Linked DNA regions of Homo sapiens: region 1 is linked to region 2. The links come from fine-mapping of genetic effects on gene expression. A gene starts in region 2. The other region holds a variant in brackets. All regions are shown on one strand. Distances are between the middles of the regions. Region 1 overlaps CXCR5 (C-X-C motif chemokine receptor 5). Region 2 holds the start of BCL9L (BCL9 like).

Region 1 (2,895 bases), 32 kb before region 2:
GTGATGGGAAGTAGCAGGGAGCCTGCATCTGCTGCCCCTAGAAGGAAGCCCAGGCAGGGTTGTTCAGTGGGAGGTACTGGCTTTGGAAGTAGATAAACGTCGGTTCACACAAACCTGATCTTTAGCAAGACACATCTGTGAAATAGGAATAATATTACATACCTTGAGCGGGTTGTGCATATTGAACCAGATGGGAGGCTATTACTGCCATTTCAGTGATAACAGAGACAGTCAGGAACAGGAAGACCCATGAGGAGGGAGCCCACAGGCCAAGTCAGCACCCGCCCGCCCCTAGTCCCCAGCACAATGCTAAGTTGCAGTGCCCGACTGTTCTGCTCAGAACTGGAACAGATGGGTCCTTGTACCAAGCAGGTCCATTCCCCAAATTGAAGTCCTGTGACTCCAGCCGCCAAGGCTGCAGGCTTCCGTACATGAGGACCCAAAAACACAAGCTGACTTATGGGGTCCAGCCCTCCAGCACTTACAAAGCTCAGCCACCCGCACGCCTCCCTTCATCAGCACCACCACTCTAAGGAATGCGGTCCCTTTGACAGGCGAAAAACTGAAGTTGGAAAAGACAAAGTGATTTGTTCAAAATTGAAATTTGAAACTTGACATTTGGTCAGTGGGCCCTATGTAGGAAAAAACCTCCAAGAGAGCTAGGGTTCCTCTCAGAGAGGAAAGACAGGTCCTTAGGTCCTCACCCTCCCGTCTCCTTGCCCTTGCAGTTCTGGGAACTGGACAGATTGGACAACTATAACGACACCTCCCTGGTGGAAAATCATCTCTGCCCTGCCACAGAGGGGCCCCTCATGGCCTCCTTCAAGGCCGTGTTCGTGCCCGTGGCCTACAGCCTCATCTTCCTCCTGGGCGTGATCGGCAACGTCCTGGTGCTGGTGATCCTGGAGCGGCACCGGCAGACACGCAGTTCCACGGAGACCTTCCTGTTCCACCTGGCCGTGGCCGACCTCCTGCTGGTCTTCATCTTGCCCTTTGCCGTGGCCGAGGGCTCTGTGGGCTGGGTCCTGGGGACCTTCCTCTGCAAAACTGTGATTGCCCTGCACAAAGTCAACTTCTACTGCAGCAGCCTGCTCCTGGCCTGCATCGCCGTGGACCGCTACCTGGCCATTGTCCACGCCGTCCATGCCTACCGCCACCGCCGCCTCCTCTCCATCCACATCACCTGTGGGACCATCTGGCTGGTGGGCTTCCTCCTTGCCTTGCCAGAGATTCTCTTCGCCAAAGTCAGCCAAGGCCATCACAACAACTCCCTGCCACGTTGCACCTTCTCCCAAGAGAACCAAGCAGAAACGCATGCCTGGTTCACCTCCCGATTCCTCTACCATGTGGCGGGATTCCTGCTGCCCATGCTGGTGATGGGCTGGTGCTACGTGGGGGTAGTGCACAGGTTGCGCCAGGCCCAGCGGCGCCCTCAGCGGCAGAAGGCAGTCAGGGTGGCCATCCTGGTGACAAGCATCTTCTTCCTCTGCTGGTCACCCTACCACATCGTCATCTTCCTGGACACCCTGGCGAGGCTGAAGGCCGTGGACAATACCTGCAAGCTGAATGGCTCTCTCCCCGTGGCCATCACCATGTGTGAGTTCCTGGGCCTGGCCCACTGCTGCCTCAACCCCATGCTCTACACTTTCGCCGGCGTGAAGTTCCGCAGTGACCTGTCGCGGCTCCTGAC[G/C]AAGCTGGGCTGTACCGGCCCTGCCTCCCTGTGCCAGCTCTTCCCTAGCTGGCGCAGGAGCAGTCTCTCTGAGTCAGAGAATGCCACCTCTCTCACCACGTTCTAGGTCCCAGTGTCCCCTTTTATTGCTGCTTTTCCTTGGGGCAGGCAGTGATGCTGGATGCTCCTTCCAACAGGAGCTGGGATCCTAAGGGCTCACCGTGGCTAAGAGTGTCCTAGGAGTATCCTCATTTGGGGTAGCTAGAGGAACCAACCCCCATTTCTAGAACATCCCTGCCAGCTCTTCTGCCGGCCCTGGGGCTAGGCTGGAGCCCAGGGAGCGGAAAGCAGCTCAAAGGCACAGTGAAGGCTGTCCTTACCCATCTGCACCCCCCTGGGCTGAGAGAACCTCACGCACCTCCCATCCTAATCATCCAATGCTCAAGAAACAACTTCTACTTCTGCCCTTGCCAACGGAGAGCGCCTGCCCCTCCCAGAACACACTCCATCAGCTTAGGGGCTGCTGACCTCCACAGCTTCCCCTCTCTCCTCCTGCCCACCTGTCAAACAAAGCCAGAAGCTGAGCACCAGGGGATGAGTGGAGGTTAAGGCTGAGGAAAGGCCAGCTGGCAGCAGAGTGTGGCCTTCGGACAACTCAGTCCCTAAAAACACAGACATTCTGCCAGGCCCCCAAGCCTGCAGTCATCTTGACCAAGCAGGAAGCTCAGACTGGTTGAGTTCAGGTAGCTGCCCCTGGCTCTGACCGAAACAGCGCTGGGTCCACCCCATGTCACCGGATCCTGGGTGGTCTGCAGGCAGGGCTGACTCTAGGTGCCCTTGGAGGCCAGCCAGTGACCTGAGGAAGCGTGAAGGCCGAGAAGCAAGAAAGAAACCCGACAGAGGGAAGAAAAGAGCTTTCTTCCCGAACCCCAAGGAGGGAGATGGATCAATCAAACCCGGCGGTCCCCTCCGCCAGGCGAGATGGGGTGGGGTGGAGAACTCCTAGGGTGGCTGGGTCCAGGGGATGGGAGGTTGTGGGCATTGATGGGGAAGGAGGCTGGCTTGTCCCCTCCTCACTCCCTTCCCATAAGCTATAGACCCGAGGAAACTCAGAGTCGGAACGGAGAAAGGTGGACTGGAAGGGGCCCGTGGGAGTCATCTCAACCATCCCCTCCGTGGCATCACCTTAGGCAGGGAAGTGTAAGAAACACACTGAGGCAGGGAAG
Region 2 (2,895 bases):
GAGAAGGGAGAGAGGGGGTGTCAGAAAAACCCGGAAGGAAGGAAGCTGGACAGACAGACAGTAGCTGATCCTAGCTTCATTGCTCCAGAGAGACACCCTCCAGACTCCTAGACTTCAAGGGACACTATCCTTCTCAGAAGGAGAGAGCAGCCCTCTGTCTCTTCTGAAACCAAATTCCAGCAGCCCTGGAATAGGACCTACCCCAGCGCAACAAGAAGCCTAAGCTCACTTCTCTTCCTACATTCTTCCCCGAGGGTTCCTTTGGATCAAGACAGGGGCCACCTCCCCTTAGCAGCGCAGGGACACTTCCAAGGAACTGTATGACTGCCCCACCCCCCAGCCAAGCCCACATCACTCAGAAGCCTTGGAAGAAGAGACTCCTCAGTCACAGCCCCCGCTACTCACAGGCAGTGCCTGGGAGAAAAGGGTGACCCCCAGCTCTCCCCAGTCCCAACCCACCTCCTTCTGGAGGCTCCTATCAGCCAGAGGAGGAGGGCTGGGGTGCTGAGACCCACGGGGTTGGTGAGCCTGGGAGGGGGACTACATCTCCCAGAAGCCCCCAGGGCAAGGTTCGCTGCTCCAGCTGGCCCAAGGCCGGCCTTGTTCTCTGCGCTAGGGTGGCAGGGTCCCCTGGCTGTCCCTAAGCCCTCCCCACGGTGTTCTGGAGCTGCCAACCTGATTGGGGGCTTAAGAGTAGCCTCCACTGACCCTGGGGGAGTCCCCCACACCTTAAACAGCCTGGGGGTACGTGCCAGAGAGCAAGAGACAATCAGACTGTGTTTCCCCTCCCCGATTCAAACTGGATCTCCCTCCTCGCGCCTCTGCTGGCCTGGCATGACTTTCGCCTTGCCCCCAGCCCACCCCTCACCTCACGCGGATTGGGGGGTCCTCACGCCAGGCCGGAGCTGGACGCCATGACCAGGTCAGGGTCGTTGTGTGGATGGGGGTCCTCCTGCTCGCCAGTTGGAGATGCAGAGGGGGCGGGCAGGCGGTGATCTTTTGATCCTGGACGCCTTGATCTCAATACCAGCCCGGCCCGGGAGAGGCTATCCGGGGATCGCTGGGTGCCTGGGTTCCTGCCTCCCAACCGCGGAGCATGGTCGCGGGCGCCGGGCAGTGGCGGGAGAGCGCGCACACCCGCCGGGGCCGGGGCGCGGGGCCGGGGTCTCGGCCCCGAACCTCAGGGCTCCGGCTCCTGCTCCTGCTCCTCCTTCCCTTGCTTGCTTGCTTGCTTCCTTCCTTCCTTCCTCGCCTCTCCTTTCCTTTCCCCAAAGCCCGCGGGAATGCCGGGCGCTGGGTGGGGAGGGGCTGTCTGGGCGCTTATTGTTGGTCGGACTCCGAGGGTCCGGGTCACAGCCCCCGGGCGGCGCGGCGCCGGGGGACCCAGGCGTGCGGGCGTCCGGCCGGCTGGCTCCGGGCGGCGGCGGTGGTGCAGCGGCCCCGGGTCCGGGGCATGTCCAGCCACTGGCTCCGCCGCGCGCCGCCGCCTCCCCGGGCTCCCCTGCGCTGCCGGAGCCTCGCTTGCCCCTCCACTCGGCTCCACTCCCCAGCCTGAATAAGCATCGGGGCTCTCTGGCTGCCTCCTTCTGCCTTCATACCAGAGCCCGGAGAGGCCCCTGTCAAAATAAGAGCTCCCCCATCTCGCTTGCCTCCTCGCCCAACCCGGCTCCCCCAGCCTCCCAGTGGTCTGACTCGGTAAGGCGCCCGGCCGGCTAGCGGGAGGCAGGTTGGCCCGGGGGCGGGGAGGGGGGTTTCTGCTCTCCTCCTCACTCCTGAGAACTGGGGAGGAGACGCGCCAACAACATCCCAGGCTAGGGAAAGGTTTGACAAACCTACCTTCCTATCTGCACTGATTGGAAGGAGTGGAAGTTGCCTGGACACACGCGCGCGCACACACACACACACACACAGCACTGGGTCCCCTCTTCGTTGTACCCACCCACATCCATAATGCACTGAGCATCTCTTTATTCATGTCTCTCCTAGTAGACCATGAGGTCCTTGAGGACACAGACTGAGTTTTTTCATCTCAATCCTCAGCAGCACAAAGTGCATGCTAAGAAAATGTTTGTGGAAGTGAAACCTTTGTCTTCTCAAAAGAACTCTCCTAACCTAACCTCAAAGTGCTTCTCTCTCTCTCTCTCTCTCTCACACACACACACACACACACACACACTCTCACCACCCTATAGGACGATCGAGGCAATGAAAAAGAAAATGTAAAGCCCTTTTTTTTTTTTGAGATGGAGTTTCGCTCTTGTTGCCCAGGCTGGAGTGCAAAGGCGCGGTCTCAGCTCACTGTAACCTCTGCCTTCTGGGTTAAAGCGATTCTCCTGCCTGAACCTCCCAAGTAGCTGGGATTGCAGGCACCTGCCACCATGCCCGGCTAATTTTGTATTTTTAGTAGAGACAGCGTTTCACCATGTCGGCCAGGCTGGTCTCGAACTACTGACCTCAGGTGATCAACCTGCCTTGGCCTCCCAAAGTGCTGGGATTACAGGCGTGAGCCACCGCGCCCGGCCCAAAGCGCTTTTTAAAAACATTTCACATGTTTCAATGCTCACCACAAACCTGCAAGAAAGAGGTTATGGTCCCATTACAGAGGTGAGGAAATTGAGGTTTGCATTACCTAAGGACTTACCCAGAGCTACCCAGCTAGAAAGTGGTAAGCCCAGGACTAGAATTTGGGTCTCCTTATCCCAGGGCACTTTCCCTGTTTCCTACTGTCCCCACCCACCCAGAATTAATAGCAAGTGACAAGCATTGACTGTGTCTGATAGGAAGAACACTAGCCAGCCTGCTTGTTCCTGCTGTTTCCTCGGCCCTCTCCCCTGCCCCTCCTCACAGATGGTCCCCAGATAGTTCTAGCCTCACTGACCTCCCTCTCTTCTGACC

The links. PIP is the estimated chance that this variant, and not a neighbour inherited with it, causes the effect. A credible set is the group of variants that fine-mapping cannot tell apart.
Region 1: its variant is the best candidate, but not a certain one, in a credible set for the expression of BCL9L in whole blood (TOPMed, PIP 0.76).

What each region holds. Positions count from the first base shown.
Region 1 is chr11:118,892,868-118,895,762 of GRCh38, forward strand. CXCR5 (C-X-C motif chemokine receptor 5) reads left to right here. Exons shown (of 2, transcript NM_001716.5): 2 at 729-2,895. The coding sequence ends at 1,796. Among named protein-coding and RNA genes, the nearest start is that of CXCR5, 10 kb to the left of the region's middle. The variant G/C (reference allele first, on the strand shown) is at 1,691.
Region 2 is chr11:118,924,370-118,927,264 of GRCh38, forward strand. It overlaps BCL9L (BCL9 like), which reads right to left and starts at 1,557. Exons shown (of 10, transcript NM_001378213.1): 1 at 869-1,557. RefSeq lists enhancers at 1-45, 274-343, 715-1,216 and silencers at 1,412-1,461, 1,662-1,801, 2,622-2,681.